Linked DNA regions of Homo sapiens: all the other regions are linked to region 5. Evidence: fine-mapped expression QTL. A gene starts in region 5. Each other region holds a variant in brackets. All regions are shown on one strand. Distances are from middle to middle. Region 1 has its middle 7.3 kb from the start of SPANXD. Region 2 has its middle 66 kb from the start of SPANXA2-OT1. Region 3 overlaps MAGEC3 (MAGE family member C3). Region 4 has its middle 110 kb from the start of MAGEC2. Region 5 holds the start of MAGEC3 (MAGE family member C3).

What was found.
Region 1: its variant is fine-mapped to the expression of MAGEC3 in tibial nerve (GTEx, PIP 0.99).
Region 2: its variant is fine-mapped to the expression of MAGEC3 in breast (GTEx, PIP 0.98).
Region 3: its variant is fine-mapped to the expression of MAGEC3 in thyroid (GTEx, PIP above 0.99). The same link has a PIP of 0.9 or more in breast and left ventricle.
Region 4: its variant is fine-mapped to the expression of MAGEC3 in spleen (GTEx, PIP 0.98).

The regions. Positions count from the first base shown.
Region 1 is chrX:141,703,470-141,708,578 of GRCh38, forward strand. No RefSeq gene overlaps it. Among named protein-coding and RNA genes, the nearest start is that of SPANXD, 7.3 kb to the left of the region's middle. The variant T/C (reference allele first, on the strand shown) is at 2,920.
Region 2 is chrX:141,433,993-141,439,101 of GRCh38, forward strand. No RefSeq gene overlaps it. Among named protein-coding and RNA genes, the nearest start is that of SPANXA2-OT1, 66 kb to the right of the region's middle. The variant C/G (reference allele first, on the strand shown) is at 2,469.
Region 3 is chrX:141,877,123-141,882,231 of GRCh38, forward strand. MAGEC3 (MAGE family member C3) reads left to right here. Exons shown (of 8, transcript NM_138702.1): 3 at 2,053-2,309; 4 at 4,281-4,674. Among named protein-coding and RNA genes, the nearest start is that of MAGEC1, 24 kb to the right of the region's middle. The variant G/A (reference allele first, on the strand shown) is at 1,987.
Region 4 is chrX:142,094,284-142,099,392 of GRCh38, forward strand. No RefSeq gene overlaps it. Among named protein-coding and RNA genes, the nearest start is that of MAGEC2, 110 kb to the right of the region's middle. The variant A/T (reference allele first, on the strand shown) is at 2,646.
Region 5 is chrX:141,835,181-141,840,289 of GRCh38, forward strand. It overlaps MAGEC3 (MAGE family member C3), which reads left to right and starts at 3,136. Exons shown (of 8, transcript NM_138702.1): 1 at 3,136-3,258. The coding sequence starts at 3,136.

The DNA.
Region 1 (5,109 bases), 130 kb before region 5:
GCTGCATAAATGTCTTCTTTTGAGAAGTGTCTGTTCATATCCTTCACCCACTTGTCGATGGGGTTGTTTTTTTATTGTAAATTTGTTTGAGTTCATTGTAGATTCTGGATATTAGCCCTTTGTCAGAAGGGTAGATTTCAAAAATTTTCTCCCATGTTGTAGGTTGCCTGTTCACTCTGATGGTAGTTTCTTTTGCTGTGCAGAAGCTCTTTAGTTTAATTAGATCCCATTTGTCAATTTTGTCTTTTGTTGCCATTGCTTTTGGTGTTTTAGACATGAAGTCCTTGCCCATGCCTATGTCCTGAATGGTATTGCCTAGGTTTTCTTCTAGGGTTTTTATTGTTTTAGGTGTAACATTTACGTCTTTAATCCATCTTGAATTAATTTTTGTATAAGATGTAAGGAAGGGATCCAGTTTCAGCTTTCTACATATGGCTAGCCAGTTTTCCCGGCACCATTTATTAAATAGGGAATCGTTTCCCCATTTCTTGTTTTTGTCAGATTTGTCAAAGATCAGATAGTTGTAGATGTGTGGTATTATTTCTGAGGGCTCTGTTCTGTTCCATTGGTCTATATCTCTGTTTCGGTACCAGTACCATGCTATATCTGTGTTTTGGTTACTGTAGCCTTGTAGTATAGTTTGAAGTCAGGTAGCGTGATGCCTCCAGCTTTATTCTTTTGGCTTAGGATTGACTTGGCGATGCGGGCTCTTTTTTGGTGTCATTTGAACTTTAAAGTAGTTTTTTCCAATTCTGTGAAGGAAGTCATTGGTAGCTTGATGGGGATGGCATTGAATGTATAAATTACCTTGGGCAGTATGGCCATTTTCACGATATTGATTCTTCCTATCCATGAGTATGGACTGTTCTTCCATTTGTTTGTGTCCTCTTTTATTTCGTTGAGCAGTGGTTTGTAGTTCTTCTTGAAGAGGTCCTTCACATCCCTTGTAAGTTGGATTCCTAGGTATTTTATTCTCTTTGTAGCAATTGTGAATGGGAGTTCAGTCATGATTTGGCTCTCTGTCTGTTATTGGTGTATAGGAATGCTTGTGATTTTTGCACATTGATTTTGTATCCTGAGACTTTGCTGAAGTTGTCTATCAGCTTAAGGAGATTTTGGGCTGAGACAATGGGGTATTCTAGATATACAATCATGTCATCTGCAAACAGAGACGATTTGACTTCCTCTTTTCCGAATTGAATACCCTTTATTTCTTTCTCCTGCCTGATTGCCCTGGCCAGAACTTCCAACAGTATGTTGAATAGGAGTGGTGAGAGAGGGCATCCCTGTCTTGTGCCAGTTTTCAAAGGGAATGCTTCCAGGTTTTGCCCATTCAGCAGGATATTGGCTGTGGGTTTGTCATAGATCGCTCTTATTATTTTGAGATACATCCCAATAGTACCTAATTTATTGAGAGTTTTTAGCATGAAGGGTTGTTGAATTTTGTCAAAGGCCTTTTCTGCATCTATTGAGATAATCATGTGGTTTTTGTCTTTGGTTATGTTTATATGCTGGATTACATTTATTGATTTGTGTATGTTGAAGCAGCCTTGCATTCCAGGGATGAAGCCAACTTGATCATGGTGGATAATCTTTTTGATGTGCTGCTGGATTCCGTTTGCCAGTATTTTATTGAGGATTTTTGCATCGATGTTCATCAGGGATATTGGTCTAAAATTCTGTTTTTTTGTTGTGTCTCTGCTAGGCTTTGGTATCAGGATGATGCTGGCCTCATAAAATGAGTTAGGGAGGATTCCCTGTTTTTCTGTTGATTGGAATAGTTTCAGAAGGAATGGTACCAGCTCCTCCTTATAACTCTGGTAGAAGTTGGCTGTGAATCCTTCTATTCCTGGACTTTTTTTGGTTGGTAAACTATTAATTATTGCCTCAATTTCAGAACCTGTTATTGGTCTATTCAGGGATTCAACTTCTTCCTGGTTTAGTCTTGGTAGGGTGTATGTGTCGAGGAATTTATCCATTTCTTCTAGATTTTCTAGTTCATTTGCATAGAGGTGTTTATAGTATTCTCTGATGGTAGTTTGTATTTCTGTGGCATCAGTGGTGATATCCTCTTTATCATTTTTTATTGCGTGTATTTGATTCTTCTCTCTTTTCTTTTTTATTAGTCTTGCTAGCAGTCTATCAATTGTGTTGATCTTTTAAGAAAACCAGCTCCTGGATTCATTGGTTTTTTGGAGCATTTTTTGTGTCTCTATCTCCTTCAGTTCTGCTCTGATCTTAGTTATTTCTTGTCTTCTGCCAGCTTTTGAACGTGTTTGCTCTTGCTTCTCTAGTTCTTTTAATTGTGATGTTAGGGTGTCAATTTTAGATCTGTCCTGCTTTCTGTTGTAGGCATTTAGTGCTATAAATTTCCCTCTACGCACTGCTTTGAATGTGTCTCAGACATTCTGGTATGTTGTGTCTTTGTTCTTATTGGTTTAGCTACAAAGAAGCTTCTTAAATTTTAAAAAGCCCGCTCTATAATCTGATTGGTCAGTTTTTGTTCCATCATCAGTAGGTGGTTTCTCCGCGTTTAAGCCATTTAGGCGCCAGCTACTTCGGCGTTACTAATCTGCTCGGCATTAATGTAATATGCTATCCACACACAAGCCAAGATAGTAGCAAGTTTCAAGATGGGGTACATTACATGCCAATTTGATACGACCGTGTTTATTTTAAATGCTGCCTTATCATATACTAAATTATATATTCTTGAGTCTAAATCCAGACTTTGTACTGTGTTCCTTTTAGCTATTGCTCTTTGCCAATACCAAGTGTTTTGTTTTTTCTATCTTTATAATGGCATTGATGTTGGGACCGGTCTTCCCTCATTCGTCTTTATCAAAAGTATCTTAGTATCACCTGTTATTCCAGGTATATCTTTGAGTCCTTTTGCCAGTTTATTTTTAAATAATATTT[T/C]GATTGGAACAGAATAAAAATTATAATTACATTTACATAAAATAGAAATTTTTACTTTGATTATTCCTAAATACATTCTGTTGTTGTTTACTATAATAAATATGCCCACTTTTTACCATACTGAACCTCTAATTAGTTCTAAAAAGATATAGAATGAATTTTCTCACGTTTTCTCGGTATATAAGAATGTAATCTACAGATAATTACATATCTTATAAGGAATTACACATTGTTATTACACATATGTGTATATTCATTTGTTTATTTATTTATAGGAACTAGAGCTCATATATTTTAATATGGCTTCACCGCTTACCAGCTGTGATACTTTACATCTCTTAACCTCAACTTTCTTTAAAACTGAGAGACAGTTACTTACCACACAAGGTGATTTGGACCATCAAAGAATCACATGAGTTCATTTAGACAAAATGCTTAGAACAATGCCTATCACATAATAAGCACTATAAAGGGTTTTTTGTTGCTGCTGCCATTATTAATATTATTTTATTGGCCGCAACTTCAAAAGAAAAGAGAAATAATAGTGGTGTAAGTAAACATCTTTATTTTGCTCTTTATCTTAGGGATGATAGCCTTTAGAGATTTCTTTTACATGTTTATTTCATCTATATTTTTACATTATGAAGTATTTAAACTTATAGACATTTTGACATTTTGTAACTTAATTTATTGGTATGTGTATTAGTCCGTTCTCATGCTGCTAATAAAGACATACCCAAGACTGAGTTATTTATAAAGGAAAGAGGTTTAATTGACTCCCAGTTCAGCATGGCTGCAGAGGCCCCAGGAAACTTACAAATGATAACAGAAGAGGAAGCAAACACATCCTTCTTCACATGGCAGCAGGGAGAAAAATGAGTGTTGCGTTAGTCCATCTTCATGCTGCTGATAAAGACATACCTGAGACTGCGCAATTTTACTAAAAAAAGAGGTTTATTGGACTTACAGTTCCACATGGCTGGGGAGGCCTCACAATCATGGCAGAGGGCAAGGAGGAGCAAATCACATCTTATGTGAATGGCGGCAGACAAAAAGAGAGCTTGTGCAGGGAAACTCTGCCTTATAAAGCCTTCAAATCTCATGAGACTTATTCACTATCAAAAGAACAGCATGGGAAAGACCTGACCCCATGATTCATTTACCTCCCACCAGGCGCCTCCCACAATATGTGGAAATTCAAGTTGAGATTTGGGTGGGAACACAGCCAAACTGTATCATTATGCCCCTGGCCCTTCCAAATCTCATGTCTTCACATGTCAAAACCAATCATGCCTTCCCAACAGTCCCCCAGAGTCTTAACTCATTTCAACATGAACTCAAAGTCCACAGTCCAAAGTCTCATCTGAGACAAGGCAAGTCTCTTTCACCTATGAGCCTGTAAAATCAAAAGCAAGTTAGTTACTTCCTAGACACAATGGGAGTACAGGAATTGGGTAAATATAGCCACTCTAAAGGGGAGAAATTAGCCAAAACAAGGGGCTACAGGCCCCATGCAAGTCCAAAATCAAGTAGGGGAGTCACATATTAAAGCTTCAAAATGATCTCCTTTGACTCCATGTCTCACGTCTGGGTCACGCTGGTGCAGGAGATGGGTTCCCATGGTCTTGGGCAGCTCCACCCCTGTGGCTTTGCAGTGTACAGCCTCCCTCCCAGCTGCTTTCACAGGCTGGTGTTGGGTGTCTGTGGCTTTTCCAGGCACACGGTGCAAGCTGTCGGTGGATCTGCCATTCTTGGGTCTGGCAGATGGTGCCCCTCCTTTCACGGCTCCACGAAGTGGTGCCCCAGTAGGGACTCTGTGTGGGGGCTCCAACCCCACATTTCTCTTCCACACTGCCCTAGTAGAGGTTCTCCATGAGAGCCCCACCCCTGCAGCAAACTTCTGCCTGGACACCCAGGCATTTCCTTACATCTTCTGAAATCTAGGTATAGGTTCCCAAACCTCTATTCTTGACTTCTGTGCACCCACAGGCTCAACACCATGTGGAAGCTGCCAAGGCTTAGAGCTTGCACCCTCTGAAGCCACAGCCTGAGCTGCATCTTGACCTCTTTTAGTCATGGCTGGAGTAGCTGGGATGCAGGGCACCAAGTCCCTAAACTGCACACAGCACAGGGACCCTGGATCTGGCCCACAAAACCATGTTTTCCTTCTAGGCCTCCAGGTCTGTGTTG
Region 2 (5,109 bases), 400 kb before region 5:
AACTAAATATTTAAGACAATGAGTGACTATGTGTTTGGAAAGTGGCAGCACCATGATTGTTTTTACTGACTTTTCATTGAGCAGGTATTTGGCAAAGTGAAATGTAAAAAATTGTGTGTACTTCTCCAGACAATAAAACACAAGGAACTTCCCTATAAAATCCTTTAGTGGCTTTTCCATTTATGTTTTAAAAGTCTGTAATAAGCAATTTTTGACTTTTAAATAGTTTATCATGTCTATGTTAAAATATACAATGCCTTATTTATTTTTAACTTTATGTTTATTGTATATATTTAAGGTGTACAATATAATGTTTTGATATACATATACATGGTGAAAAGATTACTACAGTCAAGCCAATTAGCATATCTGTCTTCTCACATAGCGTAACCTTTGTCTGAGAGTGCGTGTGTGTAGGTGTAGTAAGAGCACCTAAAATGTAATCTCTTTTCAGATTTCTTAGACACAGTACAAAATAATATTAACTATAGCCCTGGTGATGTAAATTAGACCTTATCCATCATAAATGACTACAACATACTTCTTTATAAAAATTTTAAATTATTGGTTTCAAAATCATGCTCCAACTTAGCAGACTCCATAACACTATTCAAAATGTTTTGCATATGAAAAACTAAGATAATTTATTGCCACATATAAGACTGAAGAAAATAAATTTTCATCATATATTTTGTCTTATTAGTTTTTCACCGTTTCTTTGGAGTAGATTATTCTCTTCCCTAAAACAGGCAATTATCTAGAATGTCAGCTTAATATTTTTTTCAGCATCTTTATGTGTACATATTACATTGTAAGCTGAGAAAGGAATTCTAGTCTTTCTTTTTAAGGCAAGAGTGTATCTTTAAATATAAGAAATTATAAATATATTTTGTTTTAGTAAACCATATGGTTTAAGTTATAAAGTAACAACTTTAGACAAAATTTAAAAAGTAATTAAAAAAAAATTTTAATATATTGCCAAAAAAACCCAATAATATATATCCATTTCCAGTTGTGTTTCTCCTTAGGCCCAAGAGAAATGAAAATTTTTTAAAAATTTAATTTAATGCACGATTCTGAAATTACAGAGATTAGAGCACGTATAACCCAAAGATATGTAGTAATAGAAAAGAAGCATCAAGAACAAATGGAATTTATCTCTGAAGTGCATATTTACATCTTAAACATACTACATTCTAAAGTTCTAGAAAACAGAATACACAAGCACACATTCCAGTAGCCTTAAGGGCACTGATGTTATTACAGGTCATGTAGCCTCTGGAGCATTCTCTGTAAACTCATGACAAAATTAATGGAAAAAGCAAAGACTATTTTAGAATTTTGATGAAAATAATTGTTGTTTTGTGGGTCTTGTTAAAGGATCTTGGGGACCCCATACCAATGTTCTTTGGACACACTTTGTGATCTTCTGGCATAGGCAGTGTTTTAACAAAATGAAACTATATTCATCATTAACATACAGTTCAAATGAAGTCAAGTCATCTTCTTCTGAAAATTTAAAGGGCCAGTCCTAAAATAGGCTTATGTCAATTCCATACAAATTCCATTGGCCAGAGTCCAGTCATGTAACTGTAACCTAACTGAAAGGGAATCTAGAAAATACAATGTTTCCCATGAATTTATGGTGAACAATAAAAATACATGCAATAGAACATTCAACCATAAACTCCTTATGTACCAACTTTTCCCAAGGAGCTGCCCAATAACCCACACTGGATTTTAAAGACCTTGAATTCTAAAACTATGTTTTATTCGATATTATACCTAGGGTCCTTGGTACATGGTACAATGTGGGGTACAGATGGCTGAATAAAACATAGCAGGTAATGTGACTAAACAAAGTCTCTACATCAAGAATACCATCATCTAAAAAAGAGAAACTGAAAGTTCTCATTTTCTATTTCTCCTTGATCACTATTGACAGTAATAGCTTATATTTATTAGGGAACAGTACAATGTGAAATTTCCTGAAGCGTTTATCTAAAGTTATCATGACTATCATGTCATCAATATGTAACATCTCCTGAAATCTGTTATAATTGACTATTATTGGGGCACAATATAGTAGCATCATTGATGATTAGCTTCAAATTCAGCTCTTGACAGGTCAAGTTTTGCAAAAAAGAAAAAAACAATATTTCACAGGCTTGATTTGTTGCCACTCCAGATTAAAAAAAAATGACTTACGTTCTTTATTTACAAGACACTTCTGCACAGAGTTGTACCCCAACTTTGGTGTTTACTACTGTGTTCTGCCAAAACAGAATCCTGTGTTTCTAAGTCTGTGAGGTCAAAAAATACATAATTAAGAGAACTCCTACAATTCTGCTTTATCCTAAATAACGATGATTGATGATTAATTGGAAATATTGAATTCACATGCCCTACCAATTCCATAAGATGATAGTCCTTCTCTAGAATATTTCCAACCTGAGTAAGGAGTTAGT[C/G]CCTCTTGGATAATAGGAACTATAATATGTGAAATTTGGGGTCTGAGATCCCAAATTTGAGATACTATGCTCTCCACTATATAAATAAAGCAAGCCAGTATAAGGTAGAAAACGATAACCAGATGTAGAGAGAAAATCAAATGACCGCCAGAACAAAACTTCTGCTGCCAGTTGTTCTGAAGCCTTGTTGCTACCATGTTTAATTAATATATGCTTTTATTAGCTCTCAGAAATTCCTCTATTTTCTTTCAATGTAGTATATTTACAGCCTAAACTAATTCAAGTTGCTTCTTTGCCATCTATAAACCAAAAAGTTTTAATTAATATATCAGTATTTTAAGTACAATTTTCAGTAATGAACTCAATAGAATCTATTCACTAAAGCAAATTGAACATTTATTAACTCAGATAAAAAAGGTCACATGAATAAATTTGAAAGGCTTATAGGAGGTAAATCAGAATGAAGTGCTACCATTTGATATTTCTCTTATATTTTCTTATATTTAAGAAGAAGTTCTTAATTCTTCTGTAAAAGTTATCTAAAGCTTAAATTTTAATGCATCTATTTTTCTCAAACTCCCTTGGAGGAATAGAGTGTGTTATTTGAGAGTAAAAACATAGGAGAACTTGAGGAGAACATTTAACAGCCTATTTCTCACATTTTGTTCAAAATGTTACCCATTTATATACCTTGTCAACTTTAAGTAATCAAAAAGATCAGAATCCAGTTCTAAAGAGTTTATTCGATTGAAAACCTAGAAATGACCATTTGGTACACACAGACCCCAGAGAAAAGGGATCAGTTCTCCAAAATTAAAAGTTGAGTTCTTGCTTATATTGGCAGAAAACAAAGAAATTTAATAAGACTGAAACACTTTCTGTAAAAGGCTGGTTTAAGAATTACAAAAAGTAACAGTTTGCTTTCTTCCCATAAGGCTTGTTTTCTTTTCATTACGGCTGGTTTTCATTTCCTTTCCAATTTAAAACAGTGTATTTAACATTTCATCTGAAGACAGTGTGGTAGTCATGAAGCCCTGTGTGAGAAAGATAAGAGGGAAGTTAATCTATAATGAAAATTAAGTGAAGAGGGATAGGGTCTTTCCTGGCATTCTTAAGTCATTTACAACATTTTACAAAACAATGCAGGTAAGGAAGAAGATTTAATCTATAATCACAGAAAGAAAGGTGACAACTGTCTAGGTTATAGCTGCTTGTCACATGACTCAGACCCCATAATCACGTACCTTTAAGGCTCAAAATAATTTAGAGTTCCAACACCTTAGGTTTTGAATTACTTGTTTTCAGAATCTTTTGAAAGTGTCTCTGCCAAATTCCCACTAAAATACTAAGGGAGACATAGAAGAGAAACTAAAAATAAACAATCATAAGAAACCCCATGTAATTATTTATTTATTTATTTAGAGACAAGGCCTCACTCTGTCTGTCTCCTAGGCTGGAGTGCAGTGGCACAATCATGGCTCACCGCAGCCTCCACCTCCTGGGCTCAAGCAATCCTCCCACCTCAGCCTCCCAAGTAGCTTGGGACCACAGGTGTACACCACCATGCCAGGCTATTTTTAAAGTTACTTTGTAGAGATATGGTCTCACTATGTTGCTCAGGTTGGTTTTGAACTCCTGGGCTCAAGTGTTTCTCCCACCTCAGCCTCCCAAAGTGCTGGGATTGTAGGCATGAGCCACAATGCTTGCAACTCTTTTTTAAAAAAACTTTTTATTTCCATAGGTTTTTGGGGAACAAGTGGTATTTGGTTACATGAGTAAGTTCTTTAGTGGTGATTTGTGAGATTTTGGTGCACCCATCACCCGAGCCATATACACTGAACCCAATTTGTGGTCTTTTATCCCTCAGCCTCCTCCCCATACTTTCCCTAGTCCCCAAAGTCCATTGTATTATTCTTATGCCTTTGCATCCTCATAGCTTAGCTCCTACTTATGAGTGTGAACATACGATGTTTACTTTTCCATTCCTGAGTTACTTCGCTTAGAATAATAGCCTGCAATCCCATCCAGGTTACTGTGAATGCCATTAATTCTTTCCTTTTTATGGCCGAGTAGTATTCTATCACATATATATACAGAAGAGTTTCTTTTCCACTCGTTGATTGATGGGCTTTTGGGTTGGTTCCACATTTTTGCAATTGTGAATTGTGCTGCTATAAACATGCATGTGCAAATATCTTTTTTGTATAATGACTTCTTTTCCTCAGGGGAGATACACAGTAGTGGTATTGCTGGATGAAATGGTAGTTCTACTTTTAGTTCTTTAAGGAATCTCCACACTGTTTTTCATAGTGGTTGTACTAGTTTACATTCCTGCCAGCAGTGTAGAAGTGTTCCCTGTTCACCACATTCATGCCAACATCTAATTTTTTAAAAAATTTTTCGATTATGGCCATTCTTGTGAGCATAAGATGGTATCACATTGTGGTTTTGATTTGCATTTCCCTGATCATTAGTGATGTTGAGCATTTTTTCATATGTTTGTTGACCATTTGTATGCCTTTTTTTGAGAATTGTCTATTCATGTCCTTAGCCCATTTTTTTGATTGGATTGTTTTTTTCTTGCAAATTTGTTTGAGTTTATTGTAGATTCTGGATGTTAGTCCTTTGTCTGATGTATAGA
Region 3 (5,109 bases), 42 kb after region 5:
GGGAAGAATCAACATATTTAAAATATTGAATCTTCATGCCCATGAATTTATTTTATTTTATGTTCAGGTAGGTCTTTGTTAATATGCCTCAACAGCATTTTAATATTTTTGTCTGTAAAAATTTTTTGGTTAAGCTTTTTTAACCAAAAAATATTTTAACCAGCCATCAGCTGCCTCCCAGTCTTATTTGGTTAAAATGTTTTTGGTTAAATTATTTTCCTAAGATACTTGATATTTTGGTACTATAGGTTAAAATTATATAGTCTTTACTTTCATTTTCATACTCTTTCCCTGACAAAAAACGAAGTTGATATTCTTTTGAATATTGACCTTATACTAGCAAACTGATATACTATTATATATTGAATAAATTATCTTTAGTTGTTTTGGATTCTTTTCATGCACAGTCTAATCATGCATGAATCACAAACGCTTTGTTTCCAACTGGCCAATCCTCATTCCTTCATTTACTGCTCTTTGGATTACTACACTGGCTACTACCTCTAGTATAAAAAGTAATAGAAGTACTTGTAGCAGAAACTCTAGGTTAGGTCTCAAGTTCAAACTAGAGGCTTCCAACATTTCCTTAAAAGATGTATCTGTTGTAGGTTTTTCATGCATATCCTTTTATCTAGTTTGGTAACATTTTTCATATTTGATAAACTTTATGTTTAAATAATTTTAGATTTACAAGAAAATTATAACAATAGTAAGAAAGTTCTCATATGTTCCACACTCAATGCCTCCTGTTATTAACACCTTACCTTGGTAAGGTTTCCTAAAACTAATGAGCCAGTATTTGTACATTGTTTTTAACAAACATTCTTTATTTATTATTGAACATACTTCAGTCACATTTTCTTACTTTTCACGAAATTCTATTTTCTATGCCAGGATCCCCTAAGGATACTCCATTACATTTAGTTATCATGTTCCTTCGATGCCCTTTGGCTGTACCGGTTGATTGAGACATTTCTCGATTTTGAAAACATTGACAGTTTTGACAGTTTCGTATGGTTAGGTATTTTGTAAAATTGACTTTGACTGGGATTTATGTGATTTTTTTCTGTCATGATTTGATGTAGGTAATGTTTCCTGGAAGGATGAACAGAGAGGTGAAGTGCCGTTCTTATCATACCGACAGCACATAGTACCAACAAAATTTGTCACTGATGATGTTAACTTGATTACCATGGCATCATCGTGCTTTTTAGCTTTATTCAGGGTAAAATTACATTATTTTTTGCCGTATGTTATACTGTCATCATGAGAAGAACAGGGAGACCCAGGACCAGCCAGTAGTCACATGAAGCCTCTGAGAGATAACTGCAAGACTCCCTGCCCACAAAGAGAAGGATCCACAGAATCCAGCTCCACTGCTGCTGTCAGCCCTGGGAGGCCCTGGGGCATGGTGGCCCACTGTGGTGTCCCCCTGACATTTTAGAGGGTAGAAAGAGGAGAAGGCTCTGCCTAGGTGAGTCTCACTTCAGATCATGAGAGGTGAAGGGACTCAGGCCCTTCCAGGCATCCCCAGGATGACACAGAGGAAGGACTGGTGAGACACCCCTCCCAAGAAACAGAAGGACACACAAATCCAGGCCCTGTTTTCACCCCTGGGAGGCCTTGGGCAGGGCCCTCAGTCAGAGATGCTAGCGCTTTTCACTTCGTCTTGGGGGGCGTCTCATGGAAATGGGGACCTTGATCTGAAGAACATAGTCTCTGGACAGCAGGGGAAGGGCTCCCAGGCCATGTCAGGAATAATAACTGCAGGAAAACAGAGAGTCCTGCCCACCCCATTTTAGAAAAAGGACACCAGAGTCCTGCCTTGGGCCTGGGAGGCCCCACCCCACTGTGGGTGGATGTGATTCTCCCTCTCTTGCACCTTGCAGGTCTCAGGGATGGGAGGGGCTTATTCGGAGGTGAAAGACTCAGTTGCACAGAGGCAGGAAGGCCAGGCGGTTTCCAGGAGTCCAGGCACAGCCTCTC[G/A]GGAAGGCAGGAAGGGAACACCCATGACTGGTAGTGCCCCTCCCCTGTCCCTGTGCCTGCTGCCAGCTCTGGAGGACCCTATCAGGGTCCCCAGGTTTACAACTTTCTGACTTGCATTTTGGGAGTCAGCCGGAGGGGAAGTTTTCTCTGAGGAGGGCAGTTTCAGTTAAGCAGAGGGAGGAACCCCAGGACTGGCCACTCAACGAGAAGAGAACTCTGTGGAAGGACAGTGACCTTCCAACATGGAGGAGAGGCACAGGCTACACCCTTTCCCTTCCTGCCGTCAGCCCTGGAAAAAGGTTGTGGGGGGAGAAAGCGGGGAGGTGGGCAGGGAAATATGGACGAGGGCTTTGAAGTGAGGAGGAAAAGGTGGAGGGATACCGAGAGGTGGGCAGGAAGGGGTGGAAAGGGTCGGGGAGGTAGGCAGGAAGGGGTGGAGGGGGCCCAGGAGATGGGCAGGAAGGGGTGGAGAAGGGCCGGGAGGTGGTCAGGAAAGTGTGGGAAAGAGGTAGAGAGGTGAGGGGTGGTTCCTCCATAGAGAGGAGACCTAGCCCCACTGGGAGTCTGAAGTATTTGAGGCATTTTGTGAGAAGGCTTAATTGAGATCAGCAGACAGAAGACTCTTAGAACTGGCCGATCCTCAAGGTAAGGGCCCTAAGGGAGAACTGAGGGACCTCCCACCACAGAAAGAAGAAGCTCTTGCCTGCCCTCTACCTGCTGTGAGATTGTAGGTCGCAGACAGGAAGAGGGTAACCGAGGGCTGAGGGACACGTCTTCATGACAGAAGAAGGGAGGAGGTGCCAGCTCTCTAGGGAATAAATAGGAAGACTTTGAGAAGGACAAGGGGAAACGCCACCTCAGAGGACAGACTCCCAGAGATTCCCAGCATGCTCCTCCATATCAGCCCTCGTAGAGCTCCCCAGTCAGCTCAGGCTGAGCGGCAGCCCTCTCATTGCTGGGTGAGAGGTGCAGGGAAAGGGAAGGCCTTGGTCTGAGGGTCCCGTGGCAAATCAGCACAGGGAGCTGCCTCCAGTTGGCAGAGGGAAGATTCCCAGGCCCTGCTGGGGATAAGAGTGAGGACTGAGGAGTCACATGTGCATCAGAACAGATGTGAGGCCAGCCCAACTGCCCCCGTGGTAGAGTGCTGGGAGGTGGCTGCCACCTCACTACCTCCCACTGCTCTCAGGGATGTGGAGTTTGCCCTGAGTTTTGGCTAGAAGAGTGGTAGGGACATGGCCCTGTCTGAGAAAAGGTGAGGATGCTAATTAAATTCTGATGGGACCATGCAGTCCAGAACTGTGGGGCTCTGGGAGTCTGGTCAGCCCCAGCTGTCAGCCTTGGGAGGCCCAAGACTCTGCTTGCAGTCTTTAGCCTGAGGGGCTCCCTCACTTCCTCTTGCAGGTGCTCCAGGAACCAGGAGTTGAAGACCTGGGTCTGAGGCACACTTCCTAAAGTCAGCACAGCAGAGGAGGCCCAGGCAATATCAGGAGTCAAGGTGAGTGCACGCCCTGACTGTGTACCAAGGGCCCTACCCCCACAAACAGAGCAGACCTGGCAGCACCTGGCCATAGCCACCTACTGCCATTCCTGGTGCCTCAGGCTCTGCCTGCCAGCTGTGCCCCGAGGTGCTTTCTCACATCCTCCTACAGGTTCCCAGGGGACAAACCCCCTAGGATGGCAGGTGACCCGTGAGGCCCTAGAGCACCACCTTAAGAGAAGAAGAGCTGTAAGCCGGCCTTTGTCAGAACCACCATGGGTGAGTTTCTCAGCTGAGGCCACTTGCAGTGTCCCTCTCTCCCTCAGGCCTGTTGGATGCCATCATCCACATCCCTGCTCACACATTTACCTCCTGCTCCTAAGGAAGACGTTATGCCTGTGTTTTGAAATGTTCCTAGCGGCAACTTTGAGAAAGACTTCCAGAACCAAACTGTGATAGAGAACTTGGCAGATGCACAGGATTCCACAGAGGAGGAAGAGGAGAAAACCTCCTCCATTTCCTCTTCCTCTTTCTACTTATTATTCCCCTCCTCTTCCTTCTCTTCTTCCTCCTTCTCCTCCTCTTTCTCCTCTTCCTCCTCCTCCTCCTCCTCATCCTCTACTCTGATTCTTGGTGCTCATGAGGAGGAGGAGGAGTAGCTGTCTGCTGGGATGCTGCCTCTTCCCCAGAATCCTCCTGAGAGTCCTCCCCAGGGTCCTCTCCAGGGTTCCCTGTCCTGCTCCTCCTCCACTTTATGAAGCCCATTCAATGAAGAGCCTAGCAGCCAATAAGATGAAGATACAAGTACCTGGCACAGCTTGCCAGAGAGCGAGCCCTTGTTCACTTATACACTGGATGAAAAGGTGGACAAGTTGGTGCAGTTTCTTCTCCTCAAATATCAAGCAAAAGAGCCTCTCACAAGAGCAGAGATGCAGATGAATGTCATCAACACATACACGGGCTACTTTCCTATGATCTTCAGGAAAGCCCGTGAGTTCATAGAGATTCTTTTTGGCATTTCCCTGACAGAAGTGGACCCCGACCATTTCTATGTCTTTGTAAACACATTAGACCTCACCTGTGAGGGGAGTCTGAGTGATGAGCAGGGCATGCCCCAGAACCGCCTCCTGATTCTTATTCTGAGTGTGATCTTCATAAAGGGCAACTGTGCATCTGAGGAGGTCATCTGGGAAGTGCTGAATGCAATAGGGGTGTGTGCTCAGAGGGAGCATTTCGTCTATCGGGAGCCCAGGGAGCTTGTCACTAAAGTTTGAGTGCAGGGACATTACCTGGAGTAGCGACATGTGCCCAGTAGTGCTCCTCCACGTTATGAATTCCTGTGGGGTCCTAGAGCCCATTCAGAAACTAGCAAGAGGAAAGTAGTGAGATTTTGGTCATGTGAAACAATACCGTCTCTAGTTCCTTTCCAATCTCTTCCAAGGATGCTTTGAAAGATGTGGAAGACAGAGCCCAGGCCATAATTGACACCAAAAATGATGCTACTGCCATGGCCAGTGCAAGGTTCCGTGTCATCTCCAGAAACTTCTCCTGTCCTGAGTGAAGTATAGGGCCGTTTCTTACGTCTGTGTTTGAAGAGGGCAGTCAGGGTCCTAGGTAGTGGAGGGCCCGGGTGGGGCTTGAGGGAA
Region 4 (5,109 bases), 260 kb after region 5:
CATGAAATATTATACTTCTTTTGTTTTTCTTAACAAATGAGGGATGTAAAAACCATTTTTAGCTTGTGGACAGATTTGGCCTGTAAGCGATAGTTTGCTAACCTTTACTATAATAGGAAGAAGATAGGTTTTTGAGTCAATGCGCCTGGTACTATCCCTTTCTTGCTGTGTAATTTCTGACGTGTTACTTCACTGAGTTTGGTTTCCATCCTTGGAAAACAGAGATAATTTTGGTTTACATATACACAATGGAATATTATTCAGCCATAAAAAATGAAATCCTGTCATTTGCAACAACATGGATGGAGCAGGAAAGCATTATGTTAAGCAAAATAAGCCAGGGACAGAAAGACAAATATCACAAGTGCTTAACCATATATGAGAGATTAAAAATAGATCTCATCGAGATAGAAGGTAGAGTGATAGTTACCAGAGGCTGGAAAGGGTAGTGTGGAGAGGGAATATGAGGGGATGGTTAATGGGTACAAAAATACAGTTAGATAGAAGGAATAAGATCTAATTTTGATAGCTCAATAGAGTAACTATAGTTTGCACTAATTTACTGCATTTTCAAAGTAACTAGTGAAGTAAAAATGGTTGCTCTTAACATAAAAGAATTATAAATGCTTGAGATGATGGATATCCCAATTACCCTGATTTGATCATTACACATTGTATGCTCATATCAAAATTTCACAAGTAGTCCATAAATATGTGCCGGTATTATATAGCCACAAAAAATAAGTAAGTAAATAAATAAATAAATAAATAAATTCACTTTTAGCAGGGCTGGCTTATAAGCACATTATCTTCTAATTTTTTTTTATTTTTGTGGGTATATAGTAGGTGCATATATTTATGGGTTACATGAGGTATTTTGATACAGGCATGCAATGTGAAATAAGCACATCATGGAGAATGGGGTAACCATCCCCTTGAGCATTTATTCTTTGAATTTTTAAAAAATCCAATTGCACTCTTTAAATTATTAAATATACAATTAAGTTATTATTGACTATAGTAACCCTATTGTGCTATCAAATAGTAGGTCTTATTTGTGGGATCTAAAAATCAGAACAATTAAACCCATGAACATAGATAGTAGAAGAATCATTACCAGAATCTGGGAAGCGTAGTGGGAGTCTGGGAGGAGTTAGGAATGGTTAATGGGCACATTATCTGAGTAATCACACAGGGCCCTGCATTTAGAAGGGTTCAGCATTTGATTTAATACTCTACTGTCATTATCTTGAAATGCTTAATAATTTTGAACAGGTCCTGTATTTTCATTTCATACTGAACCCCGTGAATTATGTACACAACTCTGGCTCCTAGCATAAAGTAGAGGCCCTAAAAGAATAGCTATTGTTGTGACTATGTGTTGTAGTGTGTAATTAAGTGTAGATGAATAAAAAGGTAAATTTTTATCCTCAGTTAAAGAACCATGACTTCACTGGTGGACAATAAGAATACACTCTCATAGGACAAAAGCACTGATGACTAGCAAGATAGACATCCTTGGAACAGATGAGCATACTGGCCTGGGAAGTAAAGACACAGCGCTCTAATTCTGTAACATGACAAATTAGGGACCAAGAGGAAATGCTCCAGAGACAGCCAATTTATGTGGGGGACCTAACTGTTCTCTTACAATGAAGGTTTGAGCTATGAAATCACTTTGAGAATGTGCTGACTTTGCAGGGGTATGTGCACAGAATGTTAAACAACTCCTTGCAGTTGGGTCTTGCAGCAATCTTTATTTTGAGCGGTGACATCAGAGCATTTATCCAAACGCTTGTTTAAATAGAAATGCAAAAAGAGGTGCATTGCAGTGGCTGCCGTGCAGTGTAAATCTCACACTGGGAGTGAAATCTGGGGCGCTGAGGATGTCTTGCCAACACAGCACAGAGTCTGACCTACTGTTAGTTTTTTTTGCTCACTGTATGCCACCAAATGGGAAAACTCAGAGCTCCAAATGAATTACATGCTCACCAACATTTCACTTTTCAGAATTACTGCTCAAGTGGTGGCAAGCAGTATGAGATTTATAAACAAACAAGCCATGCCATTTTTTCCTATATATATGAAAGAATACTCCTATTGGTGAGAAAATTCCCTTTGACAGTCTTCCAGCATGTTTGTCTCTATGCCAAACAGTATTGCAAAATATTCTGGCTGATAGAAGAGCTCCAATCCCAGGTTCATAGGATAAACCCAGCTCTCTGCAGCTACTGTGAACTTCAGGTATGGCTTGAATTGTGAGAGTGCATTTTGCCAGTGTTATATACCCACTCTAGGGAGTGATTTCAGCCACTGGATGAATTAATCTTCAGAATTAGTTAAGTAAACAAATCATTACGAAATACATTATATTATTTACTAAGCAGTTTATATGTCTACAGTAATGACAATAACACACAGAACTTACAGCAGTATGAGACTGATATAAACAACACCCCTCCCTTACTAAAGTATTGGTGAAGCCCTGGCTTACTTAGGTGTGAAGCCTGTTGATGCTAATATTGAACAGTTTGATTTCCTTTGTCATTTAGGTGGTTAGGCTGCTTCTGAGCCACTTCTCCATTTCTTGCTAATTCCTATTAGGCTGGTCATCTCCCTGTATCAGCAGATATTCAGGGATAAAT[A/T]AACCAAACCTTACATCTTTGTGTTTTTAGACAAGAAATTTTGTAAGAAATACAAGCCACATTAGCCAACGTGTTCAGGAATCTCTGCTCTGCCGTGCTTCTCCTTTGGCCTCCTGTGATTGTGCACTGAGCCAGTTTGCTGTTCATTAGCACCTTCAATATGCACTGCGCAGGGCTGGAGAGAAAAGGTTAAGATCAAATGAGTCAATTTGGCTTCTTATTAGTAGCTTTGACAAAAGACTTGGTGGAGAAAAGTTTACAACTAATCACTAAAATGAGAGGAAATCAACCGTGCTATTCCTACCCCTGATTCCTGAGTGAGCAGAAGGTTGGATGATTTTTCTCTTTGCTAAATGGTGTCCTGAGGGTTTGAATGCTTGTAAAAATGCTTGCCTTTGTATTGTTTCTACAGTGGGAAACTCATCAGTTGTCTGGGATCAAATGGTTTTGCTAATTAATCCTTTTTTTAAAGCAATTTAAAGGAGCACAAATTTATTATTTTATAGTTCTGTAGGTCAGAAGTCTGATACAAATCTCACTGGGATGATATCGCAGCATAGGCAGGGCTGGGTTTATTTCTGGAGTATCTAGGGGAAAATCTGTTTCCTTGCCTTTTCTAGTTTCTAGAGGCTCCCAGCATTCCTTGCTTTGTGGCTCCCCTTCTTCCATCTTCAAAGCCAGCAATATCACATCTCTCTGACCCTTCTTCTGTTTCCACATATGTCTGACTGCAGCCAGGAAAAGTTGTCACCTTTTAAGGACTCATATGATTAGACTGGGATCTTAAAAACCAAAATATATTTTGCTAATTCACCCTTCCACTTAAATGACTTTTTTTTGTTTCTGTTTTTTTGTTTTGTTTTGTTTTGTTTTGTCTTTTTTACATGAAAGAGGCATATCTTTTGGGAGTAAGGTGAAGCAGAATATAACCAAGTAAAAAATGGAGTAAATACAGTAATTTTAGATAGTGGTAAGCGCTAGAGAGAAAATAAGGCAGGGTGAGGAGTCAAGGACTGAGTGTGATCATGATGTTGTTTCAGGTAAGGTGGTCTGAGAAGGCCTCTTGGAGAGGTAACATTTGATCAGAGACCTGAATGATGAGGGTAAACCTTGGGAAGTTCTGGTACAAGTGCCTTCCAAACAGAGGAATGGTAAAAGCTCTGAGGCAGGAAAGCATTTTGGCTGCATAAGAAGCGGCAATTAGGCTGGTGAAATTGAAACAGTGAACAAGGTGAAAGAGTAGTAAGAGACCAAATTAGAGGCACAGACAAAGATCTGATAATACAGAGTCCTGAAGCTTCTGCTAAGGAGTTTGGATTTGATTTTAAGTGCAGATGGGAGCCATTGTCTAGTGTTAAGCAGGAAACTGGCGTGGCCTGATTTATGGTTTAAAAAGATCATCCCATCTGCTGTATTGGGAACAGATACCAGAGAAGGTAAGAGTTAAAACCAAGAGTTAAAAGAGGTTGTTGAAATAAACAGATGAGAGATAATGTGTGAGACTTGGAATAGGATGATTGTAGCAGAGATGATGACAAATATCAGGATTTTAGAACAAATTTTAGGGCAGGTTTGCTAATGGGTTAGATTTGGGGAGAGGACAGGATTGAGGAGAAAAGAGAGGTCAAGGGTATAACACTTTGGTTAAAGGCCTGAGCGCTGTGTGGCCTTGGACAAGTAACTTAATGTCTCTGAACTTGTTTATTCATCTGTAAAGTGAGAATTACAATAGCTACCTTCCAGAGTCATTATTGCATTTATATATTCAACTAATATTAATTGGCCTCTTACACGCCAAACATTTTGCTGTTGCTTTACATTTTTTTTTTATCCTGAGTTGATTCTCACAAGGCTTCTAGAAGGTTATTATAGGACATTATTTCCATCTTACATATGGAACTGATATTCGGAGTTGTAAGGTTTGATAACACATGGCAAGTAAACAGCAGATGCAAGACTTAAATCCAGATCTTTGCTTCAAAGCTTATGATCTATCTGGCTGAGTGTTACTCAGATGAGTGATGATGGACTTACTCTTGGAGATATCACCCTATCTTAAGAATCTGCCTTATTACAACTGGAGACTCTAGTAAGAAGTAAAACTCTCCAACCTTTAAAGAAAGCAACAGGATCAGAGTTTCTCATCTAATTTCCTGAACTTCTTTAAAGAGATGGAATGGGAAAAGGGCATTTAGTTAAACTTTGCCCAGGGATTCCCCCAGGTTGTCTTTTTTTTTCTAGTTTAATTATATACCAAATGTTACTAAACAGATGGAATCCCACAAGCAGTTTAGCTTGAAAAAGCAGAATGCCTAAAAGGAGCTAACGCAAAGAACGATGAGGGTCACTGTTGCATTGTCAGGATAGTATAAATACTGTAAAAAGTGGTTTTTAAGATAGAGGAACAACGAACATCCCCAGAGTCAAATGATGCTTAAAATGAAGATGATATCCTTTTTAATAC
Region 5 (5,109 bases):
GAGATTGCTTCTACTTCTCTCTGATATTCTGTCTGTTTAGAAGGAAGATAAACTACAGGTTGGCAGGTAGTTAGGGAGGCAATCACATCGGTTGTATGGCTTTGCATCTTGTCCAGCATTTAGTTTCTCAGGAATGCTTATTTGCAGTGGAGAAACAAGCTCCACACAGTGCAGCCTACACTTCCTCCAGATCTGCTCAAGTCTAATTTCCTTGCTTCTTCAAATTGGAATATCTGGACCAAGGTAGTGATAGGGGTTATATATTGATTTTTGAGTCTTCTTTCAATCTGGGCCAAATTATACTGGATCTGAATCATACCTCAAGAATTATATTGATTAAGACTCAGTTTTGTTTCAAGTTTCAGCATTGATGAATCCTTTCTGTTCATTTTGGTTAGTCACAGGGTGAGAGGTTTTATAAGCCAACACTATTTCCGCTTGCTTTCCCATAGCTTATTCAGTATATTGAAAAATTTTCAGGAAACAACAGCAAAATCCTACATAATATTCCTTGTTGAATATCAAATTTCTGTTTTTGACTTTCCATTGGAATAAGTCAGGAATGTCTACGTAAGACAATGCTTGAGGGTAAAAGATGAGTGAATGCGGAGATCTTTGTGAGATTGAGATGGCTGGCATCAGCTCTGAAGCCATGCGATCATTAATAGTAAGTTTCTGCTCTGCCATTTACAGATGCTGTAATCTGAATCGATCTTTCAATTTGTTCAAAATTCAGTTTTCTTTTAACTTTGTAAAATAAAAATAACTCTTGTTACTACATGTTGGGACATTTTTAACAGATTAAATGTGATAATATAAATCTGAAGTATTGAGCACTGTACCTGGCATAGAATGAGCTCATTATAATATCAGTCTCCTTATTCTTTCCCTTGTCTAACCATCAGTGGTGAGAAACAGCTGTTGATTTGCCAAAATATATGCATAATTTTATAAATGAAAACATCCAAAATCTCTTTGGGTGGCCTATTAAGGAATGAGCTACAGGGTTTTTCACCTTTATTACTATTGACATTTTGAGACAGATAGTTCTGTGGGCTTTTTTGAGGGGGTGTCATCTTGCTGAATTTAGAATGATTAGCAGCATTCCTAGTTTCTATTCAATAGATGCCGATAGCACCAAGAGCCATCCCAGTTGTGACAACCAAAAATATTTCCAGACTGCAAAATGTCTTCTTGGGATGGGGTGCAAAATCACCCCCAATCTGAGCACTACTGAGCTAGAGGAATGAAAAGGACATTGTGTTGGAAGAGGGTAGGGACTTAAGCTTTGAAATGTTGTTCATAGCTTGGAAGAGGCCCACCTTAGCCGTTTCTGCCATTGGGTGAACTAGGCTTTTTGTGCCTAGGTGTTAGTGAATGGATGTCAGAGCAGAAGGTAGGAGACAGGAGAAGAGTCTTCTCTATTTAGAGGGAATGGAAAAGATGCAGGGCAGTGTCAGAAGGTTTCAGATCTCTCATGAGCAAATGCAAAACTTCTGTGTTCTCAAGACCGGAAACACATTTCTCAGCCAAGGGAAGAGGCTAATTGAGAGGAGTGATCGTGGCTCTTCTTCATTTTCTTAGTAAGCTCCTGAAGGTGGCAAGACCGCAGAAAAGCAATGCATTTAATACCTCAGGGACTTGTTAGTGCCTGAAATTGAACATGGAGGCATTGGGATGATTTCATTGTGCCTCAGAAGTTATTAAACTGAGTCAGGCAAGTCTGCACTCTGGCTCCCCATGTGCAGGTGCAAGCAGTGGCCCCAGTGGGGATCCGAGGGCAGTTCCCTGGCTGGTGGGGTAATGTTCCAGGCAGGAACACAGCTGCCTCTGCTGCACAAAAAATCTGCCTGAAAAGTGGGAGGCAGCAGGTTGTAATAAGCCCCACTCAGCTCCCACACACTTGGCAAGTCAGTTTTCATACCCACAGTGTTCTGCTAGCAGCAGCAGCTAACTGGGTTTCAAGTGGCCCGTGCTCAGAATTTAAAACCATCCCAGGCCATAAGCTTTCCCTATGGACACAGAAACCATATCTTTCAGGCTGCATCCTTTCCAGTCCACCTGTGAAGCAGGGCCATGCAGCTCATGTGCCTTGTTGCCGTAGCACACTTCTCACTTGCCCCTCGGTTCTGGCCAATCAGCTTTGTCCTTACTAAGGATTATATCACAAATCCCAGTTGGGCTCTTCTCTCAAACTGTGACTGCAGCCTGAGTTAGACTTCTGCAACGTCCCGTGAGGTGGGATCAGGAATGGCTTCCCTCCATTCTTGCTGGAATCTGGGTCTGCACACAAAGCATGTCCCGATGCTGCTCCTTCTTATATATTCCTTACTTTTCACTGAATCACCTCTAGAGCTGAGTAGGTTTGAAGTCCTCCCTCATGACTTGTATTGCCTGGCTCGCCTGTGGGAGTATATGTCATGACAGCAATCTATCCCTCTCTCATGCTCTGGGGACTAATGGTTTTCCATCTGTTTTATGATGTAGTCTGTTGCCTGCCACTTCATTCAAAGGGTCTGTGGTTTCTTTCAGTTTTTCTGTTAAGTTCTTACATTGTTTCTTCGAATAAATTTTACAGCATGAATCTCTACATGCCATTTTGTCTTACCAAGTGGGATAAGTATGCTTATAATGCTTCCAATCTGCCATCTTGGAAAAAAAGAAAAAAAAAACTTTAAATATTTTGTCTGTAATGTGCTATGGAAGAGACCTTTTCACATTGTATCTGTTTAGGAATTGATGGGCCTCCTGTATCTCAATGTCTAAGTGTCTTGCTCGACTTAGGAAGTGTCATCTATTATTTCAATAAATAGGTCTTTGAAAACATGTTTTCTCTCTTTGCCTTCTGGGCTATCAGTGATTTTTATATTTGGTCACTTTATGTTGTTAGATAGATTCCAAAGGTTTATTTTATTATTTTCTTTTTTTCTTTATTTTTGTCTGACAGCGTTATTTCAAAAAAAACTGTCTTCAAGCAAAATGTGATCTTAACATAAGTCAGTTATGATTGAGTATATTGTTGAAGCTTTCATGTGTATTTTTTAGTTTATTCACTGCATTCTTTGGCTCCAGAATTTCTGTTCGTTCCTTTTTTATGGTCTCTATCTCTTTGGTAAAGACAGGGTGGCAGTGGCCATGCTGCTGCCCTGCCACTGGGTGTTGGATGCCACCTTCAGTGATGGCAGTCTAGGCCAGTGGGTGAAAAACACATGTGCCACATATGCCTTATCCCCAGTGGTGCTCCCACCTCAGCCCCAGGTGTGGTAGCCCATGAATGCTCATGTCTAAGCCCCAGGTTAACAGCCAGCTCTTCTTTTGCATCTCAGCCTCAGTGTTGCTTGGCTCCAAGACAGTGTGCAGTCTGTTGGGGGTGAGGCTCTAAGATGCTATCTTGCCCAGCCTTGATGTTCATGTCTTTCCCTTGGTTGCAGTAGCCTGTGGTCGCTCATGTCTGAATCTCCAGGGAAACATCAGACATTTAGTTTGCACCTAGGCCTCAATGCCACTGGGCTCCAGGACAGTATGTAGTTCATCGGGGGTGAGGCTCTGCAGTGGTGCCTCATTTGTGCCTCAGTCCTAAAAGCAGCAGCCCACGCCTTCGTCCCACCTCTGCACCAGATGCTGTAGTCTGTAGTCACTGATGCCTATGTCCCTGGGGCAGCAGTTCGTGCTTCTCTTGCACCTCAGCCCTGGGCTACTGGGCTCCAGGACAGTGCTCAGTCTGTTGAGGGCAGGGCTCTAAAATGGTACTTTGTTGTAGCTGCTTAAGTCTCAAGAAGTGTGAGGGACCCAGCGGGAGCTTTCTCCCTGAAGCAGTGCCATCATACAATCTCCTGGCAGCTTTCTATGTTAGTTTCGGGGCCCATGATGGTTGAAGGGATCTCCTGTGGCTGGGATTATAGGAGTCTATAGTGAGAATGTAAACTACTGAGGCTCTCTCACCTATCCTTTCTCTGTATTTGGAGTCTCTCAGCTCACAGCTGATCCTGGATGAGCAGGCTGCCTTGATTCCCTCTCCATCTCTGCTTTAAGTATTGCCTATCACTTTTCTAATGGATTCCAGTGATTTCCTTTGAATTATATATTCAAAGTGTGATTATCGACTCACCGTTTGGTTATTTTTAATGGAGAAAGTGAGTACAAAATGCCTCTAGTCTGCCATATTCATGGTTTCCAAGAAATAATTTTTAAAGGTTTTTAAATATTTTATGTAATTATAATGATTATGGGCATAAGAAGGATTATGGAGAAGAACGGAGCAAAATAAAAGCTTCATTCACTCTGCTGTCATATTTGATTATATCTTGAGGTCAAATTGATCTTTGCTATTGTCTTGGCTGCCGGCTCTGGCTACAGCTAATCCTGGGCAGGCTTTGCAGCTCCTACCACTTCCAGGCCCACAGCTGCAATCCCAAGCTTGCTCACCAAAACAAGTGTTTATTCATTATATCTTCAGTAGATTTTATTTTATAAATATGAATTGTTTATATGCATTTCTAATATGTCAAATGCTTTACTAGCTTTTTAATATCTTTATATCCATTTTCCCTGGATCATTACTTACTGTTCTTAACTCAGTGGTTCTTAACTGGAAGAGATTTTGCCACTTAGGGGATACTTGCCAATATCTAGAAATATTGTTGGTTGTCATAATTGGTGGCAGCAGGGAATGCTACTGGTATTTAATAAGCAGAGACAGAGATGCTTCTAAGCGTCTTATTGGACAAAGGACGACCTCACACAAGAAAGAATTATACTGCCTAAAATGTGATGGTGCTGACAGTGAGAAACCCTGAGTTTAACATAATTTGCTCAGAACTCTAAAAATGATTCACTTTCCAAAAATTTGCTGCATTTTTTCTTCTGGTCAGAATGTGCACAATGGAAATTCTTCCTGAAGGATTTGTGTGAGGAGACCTATTCTATAGCTGTTAAATGATTGGCAGGGAGGTTGATAGATGGAGGTGAAGTCAGCCAAAACTTAACTGATATTTAACAGCCAGGAAATACCCAACCTGGAAAGTATTCATTCATAGCATCACAAACCACTAAAGAAAAGTGATATTTTACCTCTGAGAAAGTTAACAGCAAAAGTATAGTCTTTCTAAT